7 separate regions of the Homo sapiens genome follow, and regions 1, 2, 3, 5, 6 and 7 are each linked to region 4. Evidence: fine-mapped QTL for protein levels in blood plasma. Region 4 holds a variant in brackets. A gene starts in each other region. All regions are shown on their forward strands.

Region 1 (4,079 bases), not on the chromosome of region 4:
GCTGCTGCCTCAGGCTGCTGTTAGTGACTTCCAGAACCCTGTTCGTCTGCTGGAGCTGCTGAGACACCTGCAGATCTGTTTGGCCACAGAGATTTGGTGGATGTCTTCTCCAGCCCTGCCCTAGTGCCCTGAGACTGCAGCATCAGCCCTTTTTCTGCTTCTTGCAACTTTTTGCATCACAGGCTGAAATACAAGATTTGACTGACTAAAGCGTAAGGAGGTACTGGATTAGGTGAGGACAATTCAGGAAGACAACAGCCCTGGCTGGAAACCAAACCCAAAGCTAAGGAGGTGGTGGTAGTGACTATGATCCCTGCTGAGGAAGATCAGCTTTGGGGCGAGAGTCGGGACGAAAGTCGTTCGGTGTAAGTGGGAAGTAGGGACAGCCTTACTCACAGCGCACTCCCAGGCAGATGGCGGTCACTCCTAACAGCAGGCAGGTGAGGAGCAGGCCGAGCAGGAGGTATCGCAGGCAGGTTGTGCGGCCTTAGGGGGACAGTGGGATGGATGAGGGCAGTCAGCCCCCGTAAAGAATGTAGAGAGGAAGGGACAGGTCCGTGGGGGAGACCCCTGGGGAAGGCATCCCTAAGAGGAGGGCGGTGCAGAGCTGAGGGGGCAAGCATGGTGGTTTCTGTCGGGTAGCGGGGTGTTTCGCAGGTAGGGGAGAGGGTGTTCCAGAATCAGTGCTGGTGGGGACTCGGGGGCGTTACCTGGGAGAAGGGGAAGGAAATATCAGACGGAGAGAGGGGAAGGGGGGCAGGTAGGTGAATTGGGACCATCCGCAGGGGGGCGGTGCACGTCGGATTCAGGCGCACCGGATGAAGGTGAATGTGGCACGGCAGCCCGGGCGTCGGAAGGACTGCGCCCGGGTTTATCCCGGAAGGAGCTGCACCCCGCGGGGCCCAGCGCCATCCGCAGCCGGGACAGGCGCGAGCACTTGGCCCCGCGGCTGCCCCGCACAGGCACACTCACAGGGGAGAATCCGCCCGACAGCTGGTGACGTCACGGCTCTCCAGGACGCAGTTGGCTGCTCCGACTTGACCGCTGTCGAGGGGAGCATCCAGTGTGAGACCGGAAGCCCCGAGTGTTGCCCCTTCTCCTCCTGCGCACCCGCTTCGCCCTCGCCACTGGGAAACTCCAGTCTGCCCTACGTTGCCTGCTAGAGCTGCTCTGGGACACAGTGTCACTCTCCTGAGTTCCTCCTCTGCCCGGGACTCTCTCGGCTTCCTCCTGGGTCTCACTGTATCTTTTCCCGGGACCCCCTCATCTCTCCTAGTTCTCCCTTTATCGTTTCCTCAGAGGCCCCTTATCTGTCGGCTCCAAACCCTCTCCCCCTTTGCTCTCATCCATCTCCCATCACCTCTTTTCCCTCCCATGGCTCCCCGTTTCCCATTAGAACTCATCCCCCACAGGGCTGCCCTATCCCTCCGCAGCCCTTATCTCCCCGAAAGGGGTCTCCACCTTGCGGGAGGAATCTTTCTTCCTCCCCTGGCTCCCATTTATCCTGTTCCTATTCTTCTGTTTCCTAAGAACCGCCCTCCTCCTTTCCCCAGGGTATTGTGCTCTCAAGAATACTGAGGGCCATGGCATGGGGGCGCACGCCTGCAATCCCAACACTTTGGGAGGCCAGGGCAGGAGGATCACTTGAGCCCAGGAGGTCGAGGCTGCAGTGAGCCATGATCACACCACTGCACTCCAGCCTGAGTGACAGAACAAGACCCTGTCTCAAGAACAACAACAAAAACATTGTGGACTCCCCAGCTCAAGACACAGCCCCCCAACAAACACACATCCCCCAGGCTCTCCAGACCTGCTTTGTCCCCTAGTACAGAAGAAGCCAAGCTTGAGGGCACCCCTAGGACTGCGGGCACTTGAACATTCTCGTAGGTGATTTCCCCATCATCATCAGCCCCTGGGTCTAGAGAGAAGAGAAAAGGGACCAAGGTGGGATTTGGGAATGGGATCTGTGGGGCGGGAAGTGGGGATGCAGGATCAAGGGGAGGCCTCATCCCCCTTACCCTGTCCTAACCGGCTGGAGATGCTCTTCTTCAGGGGAGCCTTCACAAACCTCAGATCTGCATAGGTGATGGCCTCAGCCATGGTCCTGAGCAGCTCTGCCCCCACTCGTCTTCCCTGTCATCCACTGTCCTCCCTTGCCCCTCTCGTCTCTGTCCGTTTACAACTAGGCTCTGTGTTCCCTCTGTGACTGCACGGCTTAGCAATTGGCCCTGTGACTTCCAGTCACAAAAGAGGAAGGTGTTAGCAAGTCTCAAACAGATGGGCTCAATGAAGCAGAAGGCATCCCTGGGCCAGGGCCAGAGGGGCCACGGAGGGGACGCTGAGGTCCAGAACACAGGGGTAGGGGATGGGCCTGTCCCCATGTCCTCCCTGTGCTTCCTCTCCATGCATCTTAAACCCATATGGGCCATGCTGGGCCCCAAACTCGGTCCTTCTGGTTATCTGCCCTGATCTGCCCCACCCTCCTCCTGGCTGCCTTGTCCACTGGGGCTTATGATGTGTAGCTGGAGCTGCACTGACCCAGACGATCTCCCCAGCTCCAGGGTGAGGCTCCGTTCTCCCCATGAGACTGGGGGTTCCTGGTTTGCATCCCTCGCTTCTCATCATCCTGGGGGTTCCAGTAACTGGGGGTTCAGGAACAGGCCTGGGCCAGAGGTGAAGGTAAGGAAGAGCCATGGCTGCAGCACCTCTGGAAAGGCAAGTGGCAGCACTGCCCCCCATGCACCCTCATGGGGAGCCAGGGAGCAGGTGAGCAAGGGAGTTGCAGAGGGCTTAAGAAGGCTGCAGCTTCCTAGGTGAAGTCAAGGCAGAGGAGCAGAACAGAGCCAGAGGCCGAGCGCAGATTCCGGACCAGCGGAGGTCTTGACATTTTCTTGGTTTGGTTTTGGTTCGTCTCTTACTTTCCTAGCAAAGTTCTTTCTTTAAAAAGTCCCAAAGCTGTCCCTTCCCACCCAGCCCCAAGGAAAAAGGGGGCATTTGTGGCGGAGGACCCAGGGACCGCGAGGCCCTCATAGGTGGTGGGGGCCTGGCTGATGGAGGAGAGAGGGAACCAGTTGGGGGAAAGGGGGCTGCTGAGCAGGGGTGCCCAAAGGTGCTCCCTAATGTTCTTTTACCGGGATGTGACCCCTACTAGGAACCCCAAAATGGCCTACATCCGGGATAGGAAGGAGCTAGAACAAGATGTAGTGTGGGGGTGGGAAGAACCCGCCCCTAGCAAAGTGACATCCGCCCCGCAGAATCCCCCTCCTGCAGCTGTGGGGAGGAAAAAGGAAGGGGGAAAAGGTCCTCACCACATGCCAACAGCTCGGATGATTGGTGGTGTGTGGCAGGACACTGCCAGGGACCCTAGAGCTCTGCCAATAGCTCCGCCCAGCCAGCCCTAGAGGAAGTGGCCACTGAGGCAAAGCTGTGACCTCAAAAATGTACTTGTAGAGAGGCACGTGTGCATGTGTGTGCATGGATATGCATGTTCCCAGGACTTTGCAGTCTGTTAGGGCATCTGTGAGGTGAGCGGCTATGTCAGAGCCTGCCTGGAGGAGGAAGCCTTCTGTGGGCTGAAGGCTGCCTGTGATCACTGTTATTTTCCATGGCAGAGAATGACGGGTCATTTTCAGAAAAGTCGTCAAAGGTCATCACAAGAGATCCTACAAGTATTTCCTTTTTGAAGCTCACTGTTTCCTAAGGTGCCTCTGCAGCTGTTAACTGTCCTTGCTTGATTAAAGTTTCCAACAACCTAGACCTTCCCCCAGATACAGAGAGTGGTATGTGGTGGTGACTCCCTGGGGACCTCAGGGGCCCTGAGAGTGAGTGGGAGGGTATAGAGCAGCTGGTGGCAGGGGTGGGTGGGGTGGGAAGAGTCAAATACTTGAACCTGTGGTGTACAGGGGGTGGGTGTGGGCAGTGTGTGAGTAAATCAATTGCAGGAACATTTGCAGGAGTTCCACAAACTGTAGAATGTCCCAGTTTTCAGATCCAATACACAGGTGAACATGATGTAGATGCCAGGTAAAATGCCAAAACCAAGCTTCTAGTCTGCACTCAAAAAGGTGTCTGTGGCCAAC
Region 2 (4,079 bases), not on the chromosome of region 4:
AATTGAGCAGAAATAACCTAGGGAAATGCCTGGGAAAGAATCTGTTCTTCCTCATCCATTTCCTGGAGGTGGGCAGAAGGGTATTATAGGGGAGAGGTCTCAGTTTCCTGGCATAGCCTCAGAAAAGCTCAGGAGATGTGATTTGCCATTGGGCAAAAACTGCGAAGGCCTCAGAATGTGGCTGATCCTGAAATTCTCTTGTCCTATACATTTCTGTCCAGATAAAGGTGAACCTGGGATGTATATACCTCAGAAGTAGTTTCTAGACTCCAGAAAATTACTTCCTACTTGTTAACACTTAAAATGAATAAGATTTTCTCACTTGTATTACTTTTATATCTCTCTTAGCTTTGAAAGTCTATGGGGAAGGCAACTTTACTCTCCATTTAAGTTGGACACAGTAAACAATGGAGGGATATAAAGAATTTAAATGGAGGAGGATGGGTTGCCTGAGAAGTCAGACTTGTGTATGGAATTGCAACTGACTGACAGGCATGGAAGTGAGGTGTGGCAGTGGCATGAGCTCTTTTTGGAGATTTATAAGGATTCTGCTGTAGCATCTTCCTCCGTGGATGGGATCTATTTCTATGTCCTTTGATAGCAGCACTAGCTTGGACATTCAGAGGGAGATGTACTAGAGAATATGGAGATCACATATGAGATTCCTTCATCATCAGCCTCTTGCCTCTGTCCTTTGCTCTGCAAGTGTTTCCTTCCTGTAGTCTGAGGAATACCGGTAATGTAGGGAGAAAAAAAAAAAAAAACCTAGAGACTGAAAAAGTCGGAGGAGGCTCTGTTCACCCAATATAGTAGCAGATGTGACCCCAGAGCATTAGCATTGCTGATGGGATGCGTGCCTGCAAGGGTTAGGGCAGGCTGTGTGGGCTGAGGGGACCAATATCCAGAGACCAGAGGGGCAGAGAGAAGGAGAAACTTACCTGATTGTTCTCTTCCAGGAGCTGTGAGGGAGCAGAAAATGACAATCAGACACTCTCCGAAACATTTTCTAACAACCTAACCACAACCACTTCTTTTGTTTTTCCTTATCATTTCTTTGCTCCCTTTTTATATCATCCAGAGCCCCTAAACAACAAAGAAAATGTCATATAATGTATTTTACAAACGTGATGGCTTATGTCCAAGGCCTGACCTCATCTCTGCTATTATTTACTTGGCCACGGCACACTTTATTCTCTCCTTCTCTTCTCTGAGTGCAGAGGCAGACAAGGACTTACAGAAATGGTTTATCCTCCTTTCGTTCCTTGGGCTCCTATTGTTCCCCTCACTTTTTCAATCTCTGATTAAATTTTGGCTTAAAACTTCTAGAAAACAGTGATGTTTCTCAGTAAACCTTCCTTCACGTGCCTAGGTTTTTAGAAGTAACTGCTCATCTGAAAAATTATTTAGTCTGAGGCTTAAGAGGGAGGGTGGGATATAGAGTTGTGGTTTGGCAGAAGGAAAAATCCAAGTTTCCTATGAGGTGAGAAAAGCAGTGGGTGAGAAACCAAGGTCAGGATATCTGGCTTGCTCTGATGGTTGCATTTGGAGCCTCTTGGTTGTCCAGGGAACCCAGCTCTGCTCACTTCCCATCCCTTGCTATCTGTCTCTGAACCCCAAGTAGAAGCAGAGATAGAAGCTCCTTGAGTTTTTCCCTGGTCACCTTTAGGAACTGAGGCCGTGGCCCCATTATAGCCCATCTACTCACTCAGGATCAGCAGCAGCAGCCACAGAAGCATGGGCACCGGCCGGGCAGAGGGTTGGGAAAGTCTGTCTCACCAAAAGCCCGACTTATCTCCAAGAAGGAGGGCAGGAAGCTGCTACTCAGATGAGACCTGCAAGAATCAGAAAAGGGAAGAAGAGCTTAGTGTCATATTTTGCTTTGGGCTCTGAAAATGTGAATGTGGCTACCTTCCTAAATGCTGTTTGTATCTCAATCCCGGTAGTGATACATTTTTAGAAGTTGGGGCTCATCTTCCATCAGCTGCAGTCTCTCAGGAGTAATGTCTCCAAGACTGTGCCTGGGTTCTCTAGAAATATCAAGTTGTGTATTTGCTAGTATTCAAATAATTCTTTCTGTATTTTTCATATGGGAAACCCCTTCACTACCTTGTCTTCACACAGCCTTTGGTTCTGCATGCAGCTCCTAATGTAGGCAAGCTTAATGAGCGTGGTGTGAATCACACAGTCAAGGTGTCAAGCATATGCCTTTTTGACTTTCACATAAGTTGTTATGAGGCTTCTGAACAGGAAAATAATACAAATGTACAGATCAAGGACTTCCCGTAATCTCACCCAGATCTGCAAATTAGGAGATAAATCAGCAAGCGTACCACCGTTTTTAAAGCCAAAGCCCTTCTCAGAAAGGGCTTTGCAATCAAAGAGGTTCCACCCCATTATTTTGTTTCAGGTCCTTTGTGTTTTTTTCACAGTGTTTATAACAATTTGCAATTATTTTCTCTATTTCCTTGTTTGCTTTCGTGTCTTCTTTCCCACTAACATTTAAGGGCCCCTTTTCTTACCCCTTATATCCCCCGCACCTCTAACTGTTCTTTCTTGAAAGCATTCCTTTAGTAAGTATTATTTGAGGGACTATTGAATAAAAACTCTGAACCAGTGTTTCTCAACCATTTTTTCGTTATTGCTCCCCTAAGGATCTTTTTTAGACAATTTTGTTTTTAGCCACCCCCTTTTTCCATGAAAATTTAATACCACAAATATACTATGTATGTGTTTATGTGCTGCATGTATAGCTGTGTTTGATACATTAAAAAATTAGTTTTTTTCATCTTCCCAAGAGTCAATTCTTGCCCCTTTGAAGGTGATATAACTTCTGTTAGGAAGGCGTGTTTTAGACTTAGAGGTAAGCCATTCTTGGGAATCTACCTACCAGGATAAAGTTGTCATCATTCAGATACCTTTACATTAGAAATGGGAGATGATCTCAGATCAAATGTCCCATCCTCAGGGTGCCCAACCTTGGCAGGTAATGGAAAGAGGGTCCTCTTTTTTAACAAATATTATTATGTTCTTTCTCCCATGGAAGTCACCAAATTTTATCATTCTCTATATGTTTATGTGATTGTATAATGCCTATTTTTCTCATTAGATAGTATTACAAGGTTTGGGAACAAGCCTGGTTTGTTCTTCATTTTGTTTCAATGCCTAACAGAGCACTTGTCACATACCAATTTGTCAATAAGGACTTGCCAAATGAACGACCAACAAACAGTAAGGAACAGGATGACAATAGAAGAGGATTGGATGTGTTTCAATGTGTGCTTAGTCATTCCTGGTTAGAGATTTCTCCAATATTCTGGAGAAGATATATTGGTTATATCAATTTATTTAAATTAAATTAAATTATTTATTTAAACTATACCCAGTTAATCCACACTACAGGGTCTTTGTAAACTTGTAATTGTAGAGTATGGTGCCACATCTACTGAGAGGTATTCTCTGACCTCCCACATTTGGGCTGGGTGTTCCTCTCATGTGCATCAATAACACTTGGATTTCCTTCACTCCAGAACCGATCACAGTGAACTGAAACATCCTGTCCCTTTGATGGTATTCCTCAATGATCTAAGTATCTTTAGGGAAGGGAGCGGTTAGGGCTTATTTTTTATTTCTCTGAGGACAGCATGCTCATCAACAAAAGGAAGGTTCAGTGGGATATGGATAGCTTCGAGATTCAGTGTGTCATTTCAGACTAATTCAAAATATGAATAAACCTCAAATATACTTCATGCTCAAAGGTGACGATGTTGTTGATGACTCTGAAGTATTGTTTCCTGTGGTTGGAAAGATATGCTCAGAAAAGAGTATTTTGAATTTAATTGCTCATCTGTAGCCAAAAATGTTACATTTTTCTACGTCTCTCTCTGAAGACAGGAACTATGTCATATTCACATTATTCTAGCACCTAGCACAGTGCCTAACACTCAGTAGAGGATTGCCAGATAAAATGCAAGGGTCTCATTTAAATTTGTATTTCAAATAAAAAACAAATAATTTTTACTATAATTATGTTCCATACAATACTTGGGATATGTATGAGTTCGTTTTCATGCTGCTGATAA
Region 3 (4,000 bases), not on the chromosome of region 4:
CTTGCAGTCAATACATCTGAGAAAAAGTTAATATCCAGAATATATAAGAAACTCAAACAACTCAATAGTGAGAAAACAACCCTATTAACAATGGTCTAATTCTCAAAAGAAGAAATGCAAATGGCCAACAGGTATATGAAAAAATGCCCAATATCACTAATCAACAGAAAAATGCAAATCAAAACCACAATGAAATATTACCCCATACCTATGAAAATGACTATAATCAAAAAGACCAAAGATAACTAGTATTGTCAAAGATGTCGAGAAAAGAGAATCCTCACATGCTGTAGGTGGGACTGTAAATTAGAACAGCCATTATGGAAGACAGTATGGAGGCTCTTAAAATATAAAAAATGGAACTACCATATGGTTCAGCCATCCCACTACTGGACATGTATCCAGAGGAAATTAAAGCAGTGTGTTAAAGAGATATCTGCACTCCCACATTTATTGCAGCACTATTCACGATAGCCAAGACAGCATCAATGTAGATGTTCATCAAAAAATTAATGGATAAAGAAAATGCAATATACATACATGATGGAATACTATTCAGACATAAAAAATAATGAAATCCTATCATTTACAACAACATGGGTGAGCCTGAAGGATATTATGTTAAATGAAATGAGGTAGGCACAGGATGACAAGTACTGCATTATCTCACTCATGTGGAATCTGAAAACGTTGATCTCATAGAAGGACGGTGCAGAATCATGGTTACAAGAAGCTTGGGTAATAGTGGGGAAGGAGGAATGAGGGAAATGTTGCTCAAGGGATATATAATTACAGTTAGATATGGGGTGTGTGTCCAGAATAGACAAATATAGAGAGACAGAAAGTAGATAATGATTGCATGTGGCCAGAAAATAGAGGGGTGAGGATAGGTGAGGCGTTGGAAAAAAAATTGGGGATGCCTGCTAGTGGGTATGGCGTTCTTTCTTGGGTGATGAAAACATTCTGAAATTGATTGTGGTGATAGTTGCACCACTCAGTGATTGTCATAAAAAACCATTGGATTGCATAACTTAAATGGTGAATTGTATTATATGTGAATAATATTTCAATAAAGCTGTTTTTAATAAAAGATACTGTAGCATGTTTGTATACTTATGGGAATAATTTAGAATGAAGAAACATATTGATGATGGAGCAAACTTTTTGAGAAAGTAAGAGGGTCATGGGCCTAATGCACAAGTGGAGAGTCTTGTCATCAACAAGATGAGGGGCAATATATTCGTGGTAGGGGAAGAGAAGGCAGTGTATGTGAATGCAGAGGTGAGTAGGTCAACAGCAACAGAAAGATGAGAGAGTTTTCTTCTGACTGCTTTTATTTTCTCAATGAAATATGAAGCAAGATTACACAATGAGAGTGAACAGAGAAGTATGAGGTGACAGGATAAGGTATGCAATAGTGATAATGGAGCAACATGGACTGTGAACATGTAGGATAATTGCCTGGCATTGCTGTTGGCTACCTGAGATTTGGGGGTCCTACACTTAAAAGGGGATAAGTCATCAGGGTTGTGCATTTAAAAAAAAATCCCATTCAGCTGTTTATGTCCAGGAGTGAAGCATGCAGAAGGGCGTGTAAACCAGGAGAGTGCTATGGGGGAAGAGAGATGAAGGTGTGCTCGAGGGAGTGTTGTGGTGGTGAGCTGCAGAATCTGAGCTGAGCACCATGAGAAGTGAGCACATGAAGTGTAGTTACTGATAATGGAAAAGTAGCCCTGGGGTAATTGAAGTCATGTTGGAAATAGAGTGCAGGAGAAAGTGAGCTAGAAACACAACTTAGTGGGGGTGGGGGATGTATGCTGAAAACAAAGGAGTGATGATAAGTTCTAAGGTTTGACTGTGGGAATGGGGAGTCAGAGAGGGATAAAAGGAAATAACGTTGGTAGTAAGAAGGGCAAGGAATTCAGAGGCCTATTTATTATACAGATTTTTCTTTTGGCAGCTGTTGAAAACACTGAGAACAAAGACAATTATTGATGGAAAGGAAGACAGACAGTGAACACTTCCTATGAGATAAAAACTGAAATGATAGTTTTCTTGAAAACTCTGGCTTTTTGAAATATCTACAACTTTTTGCCTGACTCTGAGCCCTCCGTGGAAGTGGAGATCTGAGCACCCCTGAGCATTACCTGACAGAACCTTAGTCCTAAGAAGTCCTTACAGCCCTTCAGGAAGCAGAGCCCAAGCATGATTGCATCCCATGCCCTGCTCTGAGTTGCCCAACTCACCACAGATCAACAGCAACAGCCTCGGCAGCATGAGGACCAGGTCAGGGATGGTACCTAGAGATGCCTCTCATCAAAAAAAGAATGCACCTCAGAGTCGAGCAGCAGCAGCTCATCAGAGGTTTGAGGAAGTTGATATCGGAAGTTACCCTTCAGCAGAAGTAGAAGGAAGAAGAACCCTCTAGTGACCAGTCTCCATTTCCTTTTCTATGAAGTCTGAGAAAATTAAAGATGCTCCTTTTTAAATATAGTTTGATTCAGTTCCACAAGCTGCAGATAGTACACATCAATATTTGAGGGACTTTTTCAAGAATTCAGGTATTTCAAAGGAAGTTTTCTAAAGGCAGTTTCCTACTTTGATGAGTCTCATCAGGTTATGGTCCTGCTGAAATTCATCTTTGATACATCTACAATACTTTTCACCTTTGATAGGGATGTCTCCTGGATTGTTTCTAATTGGCACATTCTTCTTGCTCAGCAATATAGTCCCACTATGCAAACTTTCTCTAGTATAGTCATATTATGCAAACATGTCATTAAATCAGGGACTGATGGGGCTGTCACCCCGGTTATGTGTAGTGTCTGACCCTTGCTGCATATGATGACTTATGTACAGGGTCAACCTATTCATACAGATATACGCTTTGATATTCAAACTTTCAGTGTACCAGTAAATGAGCATGAAATCACTGAAAAATAAAATCACGGCAAATTACAATCTGGGGGATATTTGAAAATGAAATACAGAAAAGAAGTATATGCAAATTAGCTTCAGGGCACTTGAGAAGGGTTCACCATTAGTACTAACTCTGGCATTTGTAAAATTGCCCCTCTTTTCCCTCAAAATCAGGGCACCTATAATCTCTCCCATTGCTACCTTTAGCACATTAGGGATACCAGTTCTAGGCAAGTGAAGCCTAGATTAGGGATTGGAGGAGAATAAGCTATCTTAATTTTCAACATTTCTTAAATCCGTGAGTGTCTAGGATTAAGAATAACTAGAATGTGTGGAAAGTAACCTATTAGGGGAAAGATGCTGTCAGGCAATGATGTCTAAGTCCAGGTATCCAGCTCAATGAGTATGACTGAGAAAAGAAACTATTCAGTGATACGCAAAACCAGAGGGAAAAGGGAGCAATGTTGGTAACCAGGCTAACAGCGAAAGTGCTGAAAACGAATAGGTATTCCATAGCTTTATTTATTGGCTTAGGAAAGCCTGTGTGGGGATAAGCTTGTTTAGTGTAAAGTTTCAGGACCAATGCAAAAAAATCTCCTGAATGAGAATGTAGAGCCCTTTAAATCCAGGGTGTAAAGCTGTTTTTGCATACACTCTGCTGTTTCATCTCTCTCTTTTTCTTTTAATCTGTTGGTTTTTTTAATGTTTTAATTGACACATTGTAATTGTACATATTTATGGGGCACAGTTTGACATTGCAATATAATACATATATATGTTGTACAGTGATGATCAAATCAGGGTGGTTGGCATATCCATTGTCTCGTGCAGTTTTCATTTCTATGTGGTGAGAACATTCAAAAGCCTCTTTCCTAGCTATTTTGTAATATATAATACCTTACTAGTAACCATAGTTACCCTACTGTGCAATAAAACACCAAACCTTATTCCTCCTATCGAATTGGCACCTTGTACCTGTTGACCAATCTTTCCCTCTCTTCCCTCCTCATTCCCTCCTCAGTCTCTGATAGATGCTATTCTATGCTATACTTCCATAATATCAACTTCTTATTTTTTTCAG
Region 4 (4,079 bases):
GACACAGTCTCACTGTGTCCCTCAGGCTGGAGTACAAAGGCACGATCTTGGCTCACTGCAACCTTCACCTCTTGGGTTCAAACAATTCTCCTGCCTCAGCCTCCCAAGTAGCTGGGACTACAGGTGTGCACCACCAGATCCAGCTAATTTTTGTATTTTTGGTAGAGATGGGGTTTCCCCTTGTTGATCCGGCTGATCTTGAACTCCGAACCACAAGTGATCCGCCTGCCTCTGCCTCCCAAAGTGCTAGGATTACAGGCATGAGTCACCATGCTGAGCCTTCTCTTTTTACAATTTTTTTTCCCTCTGGCAGTTGTTAATGAACTACTTAAACATTTTAAGTGATACCTTTCCCTTCTCTTTCTTAGGAAGCCTCTTTTGCCTCTAAATGGAATCTGATGAATTCACAGCCAGATTCTAGCAGATGCACAAAGAAGAGCTGGTACCAATTCTACTGCAACTATTCCAAAAAATCAAGGAGGGTCTCCTTTAACTCATTCTGGAAAGCCAGCTTCACTCTGGTACCAAAACCTGGCAAAGACACAACAACAAAAAAAAGAAAACCACAGGCCGATATCCCTGAGGAACATAGATGCAAGATGGATTACAGATTTAAATGTAAGACCCTAAACTATAAGAATCCTAGAGAAATCCTGGAAAATACCATCCTGGACATTGGCCCTGGGAAAGAATTTATGACTAAGTCCTCAAAAGCAATTGCAACAAAAACAAAAATTGACAAGTGGGATCTAATTAAATGAAAGAGCTTCTGCACTGCAAAATAAACTATCAGTGTAAACAGGCAACCTACAGAATGGGAGAAAATGTTTGCAAACTATGCACCCAACAAAGGTCTAATATCCATAATCTATGAGGAAGTTAAACAATTCAAAAAGCAAACAACAAATAACCCCACTAAAAAGTAGGCAAAAGACATGAACAGACACTTTTCAAAAGAAGACATGCAAGCAGCCAACAAACATGACAAAATGCTCAACATCACTGATCATCAGAGAAATGCAAATCAAAACCACAATGAGGGACCATTTCACACCAGTAAGAATGGCTATTGTTAGAAAGTAAAAAAACAACAGATGCTGGTGAGGCTACAGAGAAAAGGGAACGCTTATACGCTGTTGGTGGAATGTAAATTAGTTCAGCCACTGTAGAAAGCAGTTTGGAGATTCCTCAGAGGACTTAAAACAGAGTTACCGTTCAGCACAGCAATCCCATTACTGGGTATATATCCAAAGGAAAATAAACCGTTCTACCAAAAAGATACATACACACGTATGTTCATCACAGCACAATTCACAATAGCAAAGACATGGAATCAATCTGGGTGCCCATCGATGGTTGGATAAAGAAAATGTGGTAAATATACACAATGAAATACTACACAGCCATAAAAAGAAAAATACGTTTTTTGCAGCAACATGGATGCAACTGGAGGCCATTATCCTAAGTGAATTAATGCAGAAACAGAAAATACCACATGTTCTCACTTATAAGTGAAATGCTAAGTGTCGAATACAGATGGACATAAAGACAGGAACAACAGACACTGGGGCCTACTAGAAGGGGGAGGCAGAGAGAGAGGGCAAGGGCTGAAAAACTACCTATTGGGTGCTATGCTCACCACCTGGGTGACAAGACCATTTGTACCTCAAACCTTAGCATCAAGCAACATACCCATGTAACAAACCCTACACATGTACCCCCGGATCTAAAAAAAAAAGTTGAAATTATAAATAAAATAATAATAGAAATAAATGGAGTCTGCAGCACTGGTGGAGGGCAGGTGGTGGCTGCTGCTCAGGTGCTCACACAGGTGGGTCTGCTGCTTACTTGTGCCTGTGCTTCAATGACTGGCACAGCCTCGGCAGCCTCTAGTGCAAGGCTCTTCCTCACACGGCAGGTCCTTTCTCCTGCTTTCTTCTTGTCCACAGACTTCTGGAAATGTTGCCTACATTGTTTTTTTTATCCTGGGATGATCTCCCTGGCTTCTGGCCATTTGCTTGGACTCTGGGCTTCATGCATTGTGGACTCTCCTGTTCTAGGCCTGGCATCAGGCCTCCCACGCTTTCTCACCCTGCGTGACACCATGCAGGTTTGCCTTGGGTGGCTTACCTGGACTTGCTTCTGAGCCTCTGTGCTCCAATCCTTGGTACCTTCCCGAGTTGTCTGAATTGTTTTCAACTTCTCCACTCCGCTGTCTCCTGAGCTCTGGTGGAAGGTTCACTGGGCTCCTGAGCTTGTTCTCAC[A/G]GAAGTATGCACATTGCTTAGGGTGCTGTCCACAGATGGAGGCACAGCTGATGCAGTCCCTCAGGAGATGGTCATAGAACTTGCCTTGCTCCTTGCGGCAGCTGAGTGACCCTGGGAGAGAGAAATTCATGATACTGCTGGGTGACACAGACTAGCAGGAACTCTGGGTTTGACCACAAAGGACATCAAAGTTAAAAAAAAAAATACAGTAAAATTCCAGAAGGCAATTCCAGAGTAAGCCAAGTACTTTTACAATATACACATTGAAGACTATGCATTGTCCTCTAAGTACTATTTTAGCTGCATTGCATTTTGATGTGTAGTATTTTTCCTCTACCTAGATCAAAATGCACTTATTTTTCATTATTATCTTTTCTTTGACCTATGGGTTATTTACAAGTGCATTTCTTAGTTTCCAAACGTATGAAGATTTTCAGTTATCATTTAAAATTTAGATCTGGATTACATTGTTACATAAGACTTTTACTTGCATTTTTCAAGCCTCATCAAGGAGAAATATATTTCAAATCAGCATAAGGAAAGAAGGGGAAAAGCCAGAATCCTCTTTGACAAGCTGGGGGAGGGGGCTGGAAGGAAGGTGGAAAAGTTCACATGAATAGTGTTTCTTCTGTCTTAATACTAGATGAGAATTACAGCAGCTTACACAAGTATCAGTGCCAAGGCACAGAAGCCAAGGAAACTAAAGCCAAATCACACTTGCCTTAAGAGAGCACAGTGGACCCAACTTTGAATGCATAAAGAAACCTATTTGGAACAATCAATTATCTTATCTAAAGTCTCAGAATATTTCTAATTTTTTTTTTTTTTTTGAGAAGGAGTTTCGCTCCTGTCACCCAGGCTGGAGTGCAATGGCACGATCTCGGCTCACTGCAACCTCTGCCTCCCAGGTTCAAGCAATTCTCCTGCCTCAGCCTCCCGAGTAGCTGGGATTACAGGCGACCACCACAACACCCGGCTAATTTTTGTATTTTTAGTAGAGATGGACTTTCGCCGTGTTGGCCAGGCTGGTCGTGAACTCCTGACCTCAGGTGATCTGCCTGCCTCGGCCTCCCAAAGTGCTGGGATTACAGGTGGCATGAACCACCGCATCTGGTCTAGCCTCCGAATATTTCTACATGGAAGTTTTTACGTGAAAAAGGCAAGTTTCCTTTGTATTTAGAGTAAGGTATGGCTTTTGAGATGTCCTGACTTCGTAAATATGAATAAATAAATAAATAAATATGTATAAATAAAATATATGTGGCTCACACATATATTTTAAGGACACATTTTGGAGACAGTGCAGGATAGTGGATAAGAACCCAAATTTCAGAACCAAATTTCAGTTGGGGCCATCCCTGGCTGTACCACTTGCAGGCAGTGTGGTCTTAGCCTCTCCGTGCCTCAGTTTCCTCATTTCCAACATAGGGAAAATAACAGTACTGACTTCTTCGTAGGGTTGTTGGCAGAGTTGTAGGGCCCAGCACAGTGCCTGGCACATACTAAATGCTCACGTAATGGAAAGCTTAAGTAGAATATTCATTTGAGCCTCTTCACAAAGCAAACAGATCCGTTCTTGTGTCTTTGACAGAGTAAAGGAAGGAACTAAAAGATCACGGAATTGGGACCTTAGGGAAAACTCAGATGGCCCACATAGGGCCAGTGACCTCCCCTGCTCTGGCCCTGCCCTATCCCCAGGGCGCCCCTGAACCGCACAGAAACTGACACCTCCACTCTGCATCACACAGGGTTAGCCCAGCATTGGTGTCCTTGGGGCTTTCTGTGACCTCCTCCCCTGTTGCAGGTGGTGCTGT
Region 5 (4,079 bases), not on the chromosome of region 4:
TTCCTGAGCTAGAGCTAGAGAAGCAATGAGGACACATGTTTATTCTGACCCTGCAGAAGTTTGTAGTTCTGACACATTCCTCTATAAATAGCTGTTTTCAGAGCTGTAAAAACATTCAGCATTCAGCCAGACAATAAAGAGGCATTACAGTCCTATGGGCAGGAAAACAATTCTCTCCAAATTGTTCTTTTCTTCAATCTGCATGTTATTGCCCTTCTTAAAGCCAGGCTTTTAAGGAAGAGGCAAGCATGTGGGGTCTTGAGAAGGCTAGGTGGTACCTGGTCACCCAGACATGCAAGTGGTGTTGGAAACAGGCTGCGTGACCTCAGAACATGTCAGCCTAGAGGGCAGTAATATTAGGACATCTTCACAGGCTTTCCAGAGCCACCTCTATAGAATCCTGGGGTAGTGGGGTGACTGATATGCCAGAGACCAAGAACAACAAAGACAAGGAGGACTCACCTGCCTGTTCAGTGACTGCATCTGTGAGGAGATCAAAAGCCAGAGATTAGCACACAGCATTTGCCCTCATAATTTATAAATTTATATTACTCTGGTAAATTGCTCAAAAACTTCTTTCCATTTTCCCTTTCTTTTCTATTTCCCTAATCTCTTATTACTAACAATTCAATCTCCCTCGAGCACACATCTAACTGTCATTCATTGTAGTCAAAAGGCAAGTTGCAAACCCAATGCTTGACTAAAGGGATTGTCGAGAATACCCATGTTGGATATTTAGTGACTCTCCTTGATTTCATTTTCCTTCCACCATCCCCACCACTCTATCTCACACTCTGACTTTTCAAGTGGTAGATAGACATGACAACACGATCACAAAGGGCTCATCAGGAAACATACATTGTGAGAGTTCCAAGAAATCAACAAATCAGTCTCTTTCCTATGGCCATATTTCACGTTAGAGCCCTTTGTATTCCAATAACAAATATTTATTTAGTGCCTACACAGCATAGAGAAAGGGATCTTATTTACTCTCTCACCCAGGCTGGAGTACAATGGTGCGATCTTGGCTCACCACAACCTCCACCTCCCGGGTTCAAGCAATTCTCCTGCCTCAGCTTCCCGAGTAGCTGGAATTACAGGTGCCCACCACCACGCCTGGCTAATTTTTGTATTTTTAGTAGAGATGAGGTTTCACCATGTTGGCCGGGGTGGTCTCGAACTCTGACCTCAAGTGATCCACCAGCCTTGGACTCCCAAAGTGCTAGGATTACAGGTATGAGCCACTGCACTCACCCAGGAATCTTATTTTCTAGCAGCAGCTGTCATCTCCCTCATTGTCCACGATTAAACAGAGGAATATTAGCAAAGGGTCTCAATGCATCTGCTGAACCCAAATCTTATAGATAACAATTGAATAATCGGTGTTCATGGAGGAGAAGGGCATTGCTAAATGCTAATATTATGAACATTTTACTATGAGAACATTATATTACTCAATGAGATCTAAGATATCAAAATAGCAATTCATGACCAGCAAATGGAAAAGTGGTCCACCTTGAACATTAAGCATTGTGCTTAATGCTTAATGGATGTGCTGCAAATTCACTGTCCTCAGCCTACTTCTTTGCATCTGCCTTTGAAGCCCAAGCTGCAGGCAGGACCTGAGCATCCCCACCAGTCCCTGGGCTCCAATAAAACCTCCAACCTTTTGGGAGCAGTAGACCTCATTCAGCTGCCACCTCACTTCTCAGTCAAATTATTGAACTCACCAAAGATGACCAGCAATGACCACAGCAGCATGAGGACCTAATCCAGCTATTTGAAAAGAGATGTACTCTTGGTCACCAACTGGAGACTCTGAGCAGGCGATGAAATGTGGTTTTCAGAATAGGTTTTGTATAATTAGCAAAAAAGGAAGTAGAATAGTGCCACTATGTTTAACCATTATCTTTGTCCTGGAAGGGCTAAAACAATTATAGCTGATCCTCTCAATGCCAGAGAAATTTTGTAACTTGACCCTCATTATGATACCTAGCATTTACATATGGGTTGCAATGAGTCAGACACAGTTCTAAGTGCCTCATGCTTACAGAGTTATTTATTACCTTCAGCAAGTTTCTGAATTGGCACTATCCCCTTTCACATGAATAAGGAAATTGAGGCACTAGTAAAGGTAAGTGTCTTAGTCCATTGGGGCTGCTATAAAGAATACCTTAGACTGAGAAATTTATAAACAACATAAATTTATCACTCATAGTTCAAGAGGCTGGGAAGTTTAAGATCAAGGCACCAGTAGATTCAGTGTCTGATGAGGGCCTGTTTCTCATAGATGGTGTCCTCTATGTGTCTTCACATGATGGAAGGAGCAAACAAGCTCCCTCAAGCCTCTTTTACAAGGAGACTAATCCTTTTCATAAGAGTTCCACACTCATGACCCCTAAAAGGTCATGTAATAAAAGGTGGGTACCTTTTATTACTATTGCATTGAGGATTAAGTATCAACATAAGAATTTTGCCAGGACACAAACATTCAGATGATAGCAGCCAGTAAAATGACCAAGATCAGCTTAATCAATTTCTAGTAGTAACAGATCTGGGATTCAAACCCAGGCAGCCCAGTGTCACAGTCTGGCTCTTAAACATTGTGCCCTATTATCTTGATATATTGCTTCTCAAGGTTCATAAAATAATAAGGCCATTGTTTCAATAGCTCATATTTCTTAAGTAAAATTTTTCGTAGTCATTCGATGACTTTCTAGAATGAGATTTTACTAAACTTCAAAACACTTGCACTATATTGCTGAAAACATTGCCATCTTTCTAATCTGTAATCACAACATTGCCTATTTCTAATCTGCATTGCTTTTTGTACCCCAGGCTGATCCTAATACAGTTATCTCACACAAAGCAAAGCGCGTGTTATGTGAACACCTATTATCATGCTCACTTTGATTAGATGTAGTCCCAGTAGATGTTGTCTCATCAGTGAACCTTATGCAGGATGAAACTCTAAACCAAAAAATCACAGGTGCTTATAAATGAGGGACTGACTGAAAATATTCATAGACTCAATGTTACCTGTTCAGGTACTTAACATTTACCTGAATACTTAACATTGAATTTTTAACAATTGGATACTTAACATTTTATTCTCACTATTATCATAGTTTTACTTTGAGAAAGGCTAATATTTATATGTGATGGTCATTAAAGCCTTGCTTATAATAATGTAAAAAGAAAATACTAAAAATATATCACAAGGAGAGATGTGTGTTAAAAATAAGTTATGTGTCAAATGCTGTGGAAAACCAAACAGCCATTAAAATAATTCTGTGGAATAATATTTAATAGCAAGATAAGATGTCTAGGATATATGATTAAGAAAAAAGTGGGCTGGGTGCGGTGGCTCACGCCTGTAATCTCAGCACTTTGGGAGGCTGAGGCGGGCGGATCACGAGGTCAGGAGATCAAGACCATCCTGGCTAACACGGTGAAACCCCATCTCAACTAAAAATACAAAAAATTAGCCGGGCGTGGTGGCAGGTGCCTGTAGTCCCAGCTGTTTGGGAGGCTGAGGCAGGAGAATGGTACAAACCCGGGAGGCAGAGCTTGCAGTGAGCCGAGATCGTGCCACTGCACTCCAGCTTGGGTGACAGAGCAAGACTCCGTCTCAAAAAAAAAAAAGAAAAGAAAAGAAAAGAAAAAAGTGGCTGCAGAGTGCACTTTATCTGCTGCACATTATCCCCTGCTCTCCAATAAAAAGTGTCTGAGACAATTCGCACCACAGAGTTACTGTAATTATATCCAAAAAATCTAATTAAAGCTGATTTTTATTTTCCTTATTTTGCTTATCTGTGTATTCTAGTATTCTTACAATAAACATATGCTATTTACGTACTTTTTAAAGATTCATTATAAGAAACTAGGTTTTATGGCCTCTCTCATCTTAAAGTGTTGAAAACAATACTACTTTAACTTTCTGCATAGGCAAACGGTTTGTATGTGTTTGAAAGTGTAAGTTACTCTTTCCCAGGACCAAAGCTAGTCACTGATCATCAAATCTTGCCTACTGAATGGGTTTCTAGGTGGCCTATAATTCCTTCCCATTCTGACCAACC
Region 6 (4,077 bases), not on the chromosome of region 4:
AGTTTACAATAAAATAAGATTATAAAAGAATGATGAGTTTTCTAGATGCCACAGTGGTGGACATTAGTTTGATTGACTTCCTAAAACAATACATTTGCAAGATTATTCTTTGTGTAATCACAGAATTAGAAATAACAAAATACAGGCCAGGTGCAGTGGCTCACGCCTGTAATCACAGCACTTTGGGAGGCCGAAGCGGGCAGATCACCTGAGGTCAGCAGTTCAAGACCAGCTTGGCCAACATGGTGAAATCCTGTCTCTACTAAAAATACAAAAATTAGCCAGGCGCAGTGGTGCACACCTGTAATCCCAGCTACTCGGGAGGCTGAGGCAGGAGAATTGCTTGAACCTGGGAGGCCAAGGTTGCAGTGAGCTGAGATCGTGCCACTGCACTCCAGCCTGGGCGACAGAGTGAGACTGTGTCTCAAAAAAAAAAAAAAAAACATACACACACAAAAAAAACAAAAAAACCAGATATTGTAACAAATAAATCAACAGAAAGAAAATACTTTATCTATTGAATAAAACAAAATGATTATCTTGATTGATGTAGGAGATGAATATGACTGGATCCAGGAGGACATCAATGTCCTACACTAAAATTTAAATGCGACTGACCGTCCCCACTCTGTTAAGCCCTTTACTACGCGCTTACTCGCTGCTATGCCCCCAGTCGGAGCACAAAGCCCTACACACAAAACTAACATTTATTGAAGTCTTGCCTTGTGCCATGCACTGTTCTAAGCCCTTCATTTGATCCTCCCAGCCATCCTATAAAACAGGTTCTCTTATTATCCCCAGATGAGAAAGTCAAGGCACAAGAGGTTGAATGACTTTGCTGTGTTCACACAGCTAGGTTGTAGCATCCAATAAACATTTGTAAATGAATGAATTTTCATTTTCCTTTCCTTAAAAGGGAGCTCGTTAGCCCTGACTACTAGACTAACTGAACCATACTTCCAACAGAGCAGATCAAATGCACATGATAACTGGGTACTCACCAGCTGGGCAGTTACTACAAGGATCCTGCAATGATCTTGTCCTCTCAAAGTTGAGGACCAGCAACAGAGTGGCTACTATGTTGTAACAGCTGTTTCCCATGATGAAATCTGGCACAGGTATGATACTAGCAAAGCTGATTCCAAGAGAATTTTAATCAAATTAGCTGGTCTCACAAATGTCACTCTGCAAAAGATAAACATTTCCAAGGAAAGGTGGTTTCTCCTTTCAAAATTATCTATATTGCAATCATTACTTATACAATTCTATAAGAGGATAACTCAGGGTTTTTCAGGAACAATTAATGATGCAATATTACGGAAAAGTAGCAGATTCATAGAAACCACTAGGACAAGGCAGGCGTGATTAAACACACAGCTTTGTGCCGGTTTGCCAAAGTTTGAGGGTGCATTTTCCATCATGTTCTGCCAAAATGCAGAAATAACAATAGCAAGAACTTTTGGGGACTTTCATAGGTACTTTGCAGTACCAACCAGCAATAATGCCAATTACTTATTGCCCCTGAAATAAACTCCTTACAAAGAGAATCTGTCAGGGGCATCAGACAATTCAGTTCAAGAAGAAGCTATCACATAATCACTCTTCCCCCTTTAGCTGAACACCTAACTACTAACATGTGGAAAGACCTCCCTGTTCAACTCACTAACACATTTTCTTAAACAGAGACATGTTTTGAGATGTGAAGTTTGTATGGTAACAAAACTAAGGAGTGAAAAACTCTTCAGGCTAAGTTATTGATGTTTATTTAAAGGGCTATTGAAGAGAAGTTATTACATATTAGGAGAAAAAGTCTAGAAATGGGCAAAGGGAGCAAAAGTTCCAATCTCACCCCTTCTCAGTGCCCCCACCCACTCCCCCAGATGGACAGACCTTGAGATCTCAGGGCTGCCGGAGAACTTTCCACTCCTTGGTCTTCAGGCTTCTGCAGCTCGAGAGGACTTCAGGTCAAACACAGGAGTGCGGTGACTCAGCCAGGGGCGGGGTCTCATGGGAAATTCCCACCACAGCTCTGTGACAGCCCTATGAAATCATTCATTTCATATCTGCTGACCCCGAAATCCCCTAGAGCCCCCGTCCCTGCCTGATAATGGCACTTCAAATTGCTTCTTGGAAGCAGCTCTCTACTGTCAGGATGTGTCACAGATGACGCTGGGAAAACGATTTTGTCCCTTAAGATAGCTCTCCAGGACAAAGCATTTAGCATGTCCTTAAAACACTGGATTTGAGATTAGAGGAATGAAACCAAATTCAAAACAGTGATCAGCATTTTGCCATATGCGGTCCCCTAACTCCATAGTCACTGTAATGCAATAGCTGCCATTACTTGAGCACAGCCGATGTGCCAGGCATCAGAGATGCACTGCGGTGAATACACACTATCCTCGAAAGAACCCTAGAACTTGGTATGACTGCTGTTGTTACTGGGAGAACACTATGCAAATGAGGAAAGTGGGGCTGCAAGTGGAATTAGAGCGTCAACAGGACAGGGAGCAGGCAGGGTTGGAACCCAGGTCGGCCTGGTCCCTTATCGTGCTCCTCCGGGCATGGGTGACAGAGGGAGGAAGGAGGGAGAAATGGAGGGAAATGGAAACAGGGGAAGCACAGCAGTCACACGGCAAGTCAATGACCAGGACGTGGTTCGGTGAAGCTGAGAGCTAGGAGGGATTTTTAGAAAACCATGATTTCAATTTTTCTTTAAAAAAAAAAAAAGGAGAAAGAGACCAGGCGCGGTGACTCATGCCTGTAATCCCAACACTTGGGAGGCCGAGGTGGATGGATCATCTGAGGTCAGGAGTTTGACACTAGACTGTCCAACATGGCAAAAACCTGTCTCTACTAAAATTACAAAAATTAGCAGGGAATGGTGGCGGTGGACCCCTTTAATCCCAGCTACTGAGGCTGAGGCAGGAGAATCGCTTGAACCTGGGAAGTAGAGGTTGCAGTGAGCCGAGATTGCGCCACTGCACTCCAGCCACAAAAAAAAAAAAAAAAAGAAGAAGAAGAAGAAGAAGAGGAAGAGGAGGGCAGAGAAAGCAGAAGGAAAAAAAAGTACAGTAAGAGGAGAGGAGGAGTATAAGGAGAAAGAAGAGGGAGAAGAGGAGGAGGAGGAGAAAAATAAAGAGAAAAGGAGGAGGAGGAGGAAGAAGAAAAGAACAGAAAGAGAAGGGGAAGAGGAAGAGGAGAAGGAAGAATGAGGAGGAGAAAGAATGAGACGGAAGAATGAGGAGAAGGAAGAGTGAGGAGGAGAAAGAATGAGAAGGAAGAATGAGGAGAAGGAAAAAGGGGTGTTTCTGGAGGAGGAGGAGGAGGAGGAGGAGGAGGAGGAGGCGGCTGCTCCAGGCTGTAGATGAACCTGCCCATCATTGAGCAGCTGGAGAACCTCAGGAAAACCAGGGGAACTGTGGCTGGGGCAGGCGTGGGCTGGGGAAGGACATCGAGAGTAGCTTGGGCCGTCCTCCTGCCCCGCGGTTCCCAGCACGAGCTCTCCCGACAGAAGAGGAAAACGCGGCGCGACTCGGTTGGGGGACAGCGCTGAGATGCGGACAGATGCGGACGTTCTGCCGCCGCCTGCAGGCAGAGGGACTCGGAGATCAGGCCGCAGAAGCAGAAGAAGGCAGACGGGAAGGAGGAGGAAGGAAAGGAGCCTTGTGGCTTCGTGTCCGACCCTCCCGCCCTTGGCCCGCGTGCCTGGAGCCAGCCCCACCGCGCCCGCGTTTCCTCCCGCGGGACTTCCCTTGGCCCTGGGTCTGCAGCGGGTCCTGCCGAGCTTCCTTCCCTCAGGCAGCCTCTCTCTCCCTGGCCACTCTCGGGGGTGAGGGGGGTTACCGGTTCCCAGTGATTTTTATTCCCTTTGCTCTCTCACGCCTCATGTTCCCCATTCTCCTGCCTCAGTTGTGTAATCTTGAGCAAATTTCTCAACCTCCCTAACTCTGTTTTTGCAAGCACATCTTACAGGTGCAGTGACACCATACATCTTCCTCGTGAGTGAGGATTAAATGAGACGATGAGCATGAAATACTTAGCTCAATGCTTGGCACATAGTTCTCAAGAAAGTAG
Region 7 (4,079 bases), not on the chromosome of region 4:
CTAACGGACTGAAATTGGAAGAATCACTGTGAATTCATGACATATATAAATATAGATATGGGAATGGATATACATATATATATATAATACATATCCTTGCTCTGTCTGCTGAGAGGGTGCGGAAACAATGATACTCCAATAAAAATGAACACACTTAGCATCCAATTCTGGCATCTAAATGCCATTCTCTGCCAGAAAGAACCAGCATTCCTTGGAGAAACAGCAAATTCCAGTGTCAGGTCTAGAGGTGAGTCTGGAGCATTTTTTTTTGTGTGTGTGCCAGAAAGTAAGGAAGTGCTCAAAGAACAATAAGAACAAGTCAAAATGACATAGGAACTATTTTGAGGGCTCCCACTGGCCCGATCAGGGAGAATTTAAGCATCAAAATAAATAATGGTAGCCATGAATTATGACCCATTGAGTAAATAAATAAAATTCATATTGATATAGTTTATGCTGATATAGATAAATGAATAAATAAATAGAGAAGGGAAAACTTTTATTTACAGTAAAATGCCAACAGATGAATATAGAAGTAATTATTAAATTAGGAAAAAACACCCTTTGACAACCATCATAGTAAAAATTGATTCAAGAAAGGATCATCAATAGACGCTAAAATTTGTGGGTAAAAATTTGATGAAAAAATGAGGAATTTACATAGTTTTAAAGTATCTCCCTATAAAATACTTATTAATTACAAAGGGAAAAATACTGAGTCTACACTAAGAAACATGGCAGGCACCATCTTAACTAAGTGATCAAAGTTACCACCACCAGTAATAGGACAAATAGACAACATATGCCTCCCCGTAAGGATAAGACATCCTTTCTGGTATTCCTGTCAAATAATTAGATTCAATAACCTGAATCTATCATGAAGAAATGATAGACAAATCCAAATTGTGGGGTGTGATCCTGTCTCCTGACATTACCATCCACGTATACTGCCCTCCTACACTGAAAAGGGCTGATCTGTACAATCAATTGGATATTCTGGAGTTAACATATTGTGATTTCTGAGGACAGGTCACAAAGGACATTATGGCTTCTTCTTTCTTGTTCTCAGAGACGCTAGCTGGCATGTCACGAGGACACTCAACACACAAGCAGCGAGCCCTATGGCAAAATCCACGTGGTGAAGAATGAAGCTTCCAGCCAAAGGCTGGTAAGTGAGCCATCTTAGATGTGGATTCGCCTATCCCAGTTAACCCTTCAGATGACTGCACCTCCAGCTGGTGTCTTAACTGCAATCTCCTGAGCGATCCCAAGCCAGAACCACCTGACCGACCCACAGAAACTGTGAGATCATAAATGTTTATTCTTGCTTTACACCACTACCTTCAGGGTAATTTGTTATTATAATAGATAACGGACTTAAAAGTCATTCTCCAAAAATAATTGTGGTGTATTCGTCAAAAATGTAAAGGTCATGCAATACCAAAAATGCTGAGGACATTTTTCCAGAATAAAGAACTGGGGGTGGGGGGAAGGCATAATGATCAAACACAATACATGATCCTGAAATGATTCTGGACCAGGAAAAACAAAGGTTGGTTTCTATTGTTGTTATTGTTTTTACCATAACACAGGTTATTGAGATGATTGTCAAAATTTAAATACAGATGGTAGCTTATAGTCTTGTGTCAATGTTAAGTTCTTATTTTTGATCATTGCACTCTAGTTATGGAACAGAAAGTCCTTAGTGAACCATTTAGAATAGGAATAAATGCTAGATGGTTCCAAAGTAATAATTATATAATTATAATTATATAATCACATATATGTACATATATGTCTATAGAGAAAGAATAGAGAATGGTAAAGAAAATACAGCAAAATGTTAACATGCAGAGAATCTGGGTGACAAGTATATGGGAATTCTCTGCAGTACTCTTGAAACTTTTCTGTAGAGATTACTTCAAAATAAAGAACAGAGCAGAAGTGGCTGCTGTTCCTAAATTCCCTAAGTAAACTTACACTGCTTTTTCAAACTGGGAGATGAATCCACTAATAGGTTTTGAAATGAGTTTGGTGGATTTCTAATAAGAATAGGATAGCCTAGCCTAGTCTAGCATAACACAGCATGGCACAGAGGACGAACATTGTAGATTACTAAGGGTGAGTACTAACTTGTGAAAGTTTTGTTTAAGTTCTAGTAAGAGAAACAAGTGAGTGTAGTGGGTTGCGTGGTCAAAAAAGTGGGGAAGCCACCGCAACGAGGGGTGAGTCTGAGCCAAAGAGTGGCTCAGAGCTCCCCGCCCACCTCGTGCCGGGCCGTCCCTCCCGCTTGTCCCACCCTCACCGGCGCCGCGTCAGCCCCCAGGCCGCCTGCAGGTGTGCGCTCAGAACTAGCACGTGTGCCGGACACTATTTAAGGGCCCGCCTCTCCTGGCTCACAGCTGCTTGCTGCTCCAGCCTTGCCCTCCCAGAGCTGCCGGACGCTCGCGGGTCTCGGAACGCATCCCGCCGCGGGGGCTTCGGCCGTGGCATGGGCGCCGCGGGCCTGCTCGGGGTTTTCTTGGCTCTCGTCGCACCGGGGGTCCTCGGTGAGCTGGGAGGGGGAGCACGGAGGTGGGGACGCGTCCCGGGCAGGGAAAGTTTCTGTGCCGCGATGCAAAGCAGGGGGCCAAAAGCGAGACGGTGGGGGCAGTGCTCGACGCGTGTCCGCCTCCCGCTAGCTTTGAGGGACCACTGCAATAAACCGCCTGGTCCTGATTGTCCCCACTGGCCCCTCCGGGAGCTGGGACCTCCAGAATTGGAGGCTGCGCCACAGAGGGGCGCTGTCTGGTCGGCCCGGTGTGGCTGGCGGCGTGCGGGTGCTCGCGGTCTCCTGCCGGGCTCCCCGCCCCCAGGATTCTGCAGGTGCTCATCGCTCTCTGGCCGGCGGTCAGCGCTACCGCTCGCCACGGGAAACCTACCCACTGCATGAGGCACCAGCTAGCCACGTGAGGCTGTTTCTGTACACCCGAACCGCGCTCTTGCCCAGCAAAAGCGGCAGAACCTCGGCTCCCTTCCCTAAATAAGAGTAAGACCTGGTTCCCAAGCATGGGTCTCAGATTTTCTGAACTCTAATGTGATATTGGTAGAGATCCTAAACATTAACCATCCGTAGTTATTTTTGAGACATGGATTAAAACTATTGTTTTCTTCTTGTTATTAACCTACTGTAATGGTGTGGACGTCCGCAAAGGTCTCATTCACCGTTTATTATATCTTTTTTTCCTCCAGATTGGCTTGATTTTAAAGAAAGATTATAATTAAGATTAGCGTCTCTTGGCTACAGGATGGGTCTAAGTTTCTAATTATCTCCACGGTACCGTGCATTCCTAGTTTATAAGACGTTTACTGTGTGCAGACCTCAATAACTGGGTGACTTTTGGCAAGTCATTTAGCTCCCTGATCTTCAGTTTCTTCATCTGTAAAATGAAACTAGTGATTAACTGGCCTTCCACCTCACTGAGCTGCCCTGAGCACAGATGAAACTAAGCAAAGAAAGTTGGATGTTAGTCGTTACTACTAAATATCAGTAATAAGCCTCCTGTACAGACTTGATTTTATGGAGCCAGCATTTAAGCTAACAAGCTGGGTGTCCAATTGTTTCTATGGACATCCAGCTTATTGAGGTGTCTGGAATACAGCACATATTAGTTTATTACAACTTTTTGCTTTCCTGACATTTTACTGTCTCCTGACCCTTAAACCTTTCTCCAGACCATTATCTTCATCTCTTTTCTTTTTCTGCATATTAACTCCCTTTGAACAAATGTATATTCACACTTTTTCTAAGAGCAGAGTACGTCCCTGACTTCTCACCTATTTCTAAATTTCAAAGAGGATATTATCAACTGAAAATCAAATTCTTCACCAGTCCTGCCAATTCAGGGCCACAGCAGCAGCATCATGTAGGTCACTTAACTGGAGCCCCATGAAATACCAGGTCTACCTATCAGCCATTCAAGCTACTGTGCTTCTGTTGTTTGTCCATTTCTCATTTTTGTACCAGTATTCCCATCCTAAGCATTATAATTACCTGTGTAACAACCTCATCTCTTTTAAGAGATTTTGGTTCTTATGAT

Which allele goes with the higher level. Positions count from the first base shown, and alleles are read on the strand shown. Strength reflects both the effect of a copy and how common the allele is.
For the plasma level of the protein whose gene starts at base 2,210 in region 1, A is the low allele of the variant in region 4 and G is the other (weak association).
With allele G in place of A in region 4, the plasma level of the protein whose gene starts at base 2,016 in region 2 is higher (weak association).
For the plasma level of the protein whose gene starts at base 2,360 in region 3, allele G in region 4 goes with a higher level than allele A (moderate association).
As copies of G replace A in region 4, the plasma level of the protein whose gene starts at base 1,820 in region 5 goes up (moderate association).
In carriers of allele G in region 4, the plasma level of the protein whose gene starts at base 1,946 in region 6 tends to be higher than with A alone (moderate association).
In carriers of allele G in region 4, the plasma level of the protein whose gene starts at base 2,401 in region 7 tends to be higher than with A alone (moderate association).

Evidence for each region. PIP is the posterior inclusion probability: the model's chance that the variant is causal. Protein levels are from antibody-based Olink assays in UK Biobank. Linkage for the fine-mapping came from a reference panel and not from the study's own genotypes, which makes the PIPs less certain.
Region 1: it holds the start of CD72, and the variant in region 4 is fine-mapped to the plasma level of the CD72 protein (UK Biobank, PIP above 0.99).
Region 2: FCRL3 starts here. The variant in region 4 is fine-mapped to the plasma level of the FCRL3 protein (UK Biobank, PIP above 0.99).
Region 3: FCRL1 starts here. The variant in region 4 is fine-mapped to the plasma level of the FCRL1 protein (UK Biobank, PIP above 0.99).
Region 5: it holds the start of FCRL2, and the variant in region 4 is fine-mapped to the plasma level of the FCRL2 protein (UK Biobank, PIP above 0.99).
Region 6: it holds the start of TNFRSF9, and the variant in region 4 is fine-mapped to the plasma level of the TNFRSF9 protein (UK Biobank, PIP above 0.99).
Region 7: it holds the start of CR2, and the variant in region 4 is fine-mapped to the plasma level of the CR2 protein (UK Biobank, PIP above 0.99).

The regions. Positions count from the first base shown.
Region 1 is chr9:35,616,204-35,620,282 of GRCh38, forward strand. CD72 (CD72 molecule) reads right to left here and starts at 2,210. Exons shown (of 9, transcript NM_001782.3): 1 at 2,019-2,210; 2 at 1,811-1,918; 3 at 973-1,044; 4 at 397-486; 5 at 1-75. The coding sequence starts at 2,100. RefSeq lists enhancers at 1-625, 1,065-1,214.
Region 2 is chr1:157,698,754-157,702,832 of GRCh38, forward strand. It overlaps FCRL3 (Fc receptor like 3), which reads right to left and starts at 2,016. Exons shown (of 15, transcript NM_052939.4): 1 at 1,909-2,016; 2 at 1,706-1,832; 3 at 939-959. The coding sequence starts at 1,736.
Region 3 is chr1:157,817,761-157,821,760 of GRCh38, forward strand. FCRL1 (Fc receptor like 1) reads right to left here and starts at 2,360. Exons shown (of 11, transcript NM_052938.5): 1 at 2,247-2,360. The coding sequence starts at 2,277.
Region 4 is chr17:16,946,608-16,950,686 of GRCh38, forward strand. TNFRSF13B (TNF receptor superfamily member 13B) reads right to left here. Exons shown (of 5, transcript NM_012452.3): 3 at 2,131-2,376. Among named protein-coding and RNA genes, the nearest start is that of TNFRSF13B, 23 kb to the right of the region's middle. The variant A/G (reference allele first, on the strand shown) is at 2,266.
Region 5 is chr1:157,775,313-157,779,391 of GRCh38, forward strand. It overlaps FCRL2 (Fc receptor like 2), which reads right to left and starts at 1,820. Exons shown (of 12, transcript NM_030764.4): 1 at 1,731-1,820; 2 at 463-483. The coding sequence starts at 1,761.
Region 6 is chr1:7,938,894-7,942,970 of GRCh38, forward strand. TNFRSF9 (TNF receptor superfamily member 9) reads right to left here and starts at 1,946. Exons shown (of 8, transcript NM_001561.6): 1 at 1,891-1,946; 2 at 1,002-1,185. The coding sequence starts at 1,101. RefSeq lists a silencer at 3,650-3,789.
Region 7 is chr1:207,451,928-207,456,006 of GRCh38, forward strand. It overlaps CR2 (complement C3d receptor 2), which reads left to right and starts at 2,401. Exons shown (of 20, transcript NM_001006658.3): 1 at 2,401-2,549. The coding sequence starts at 2,492. RefSeq lists silencers at 2,240-2,469, 2,850-2,959.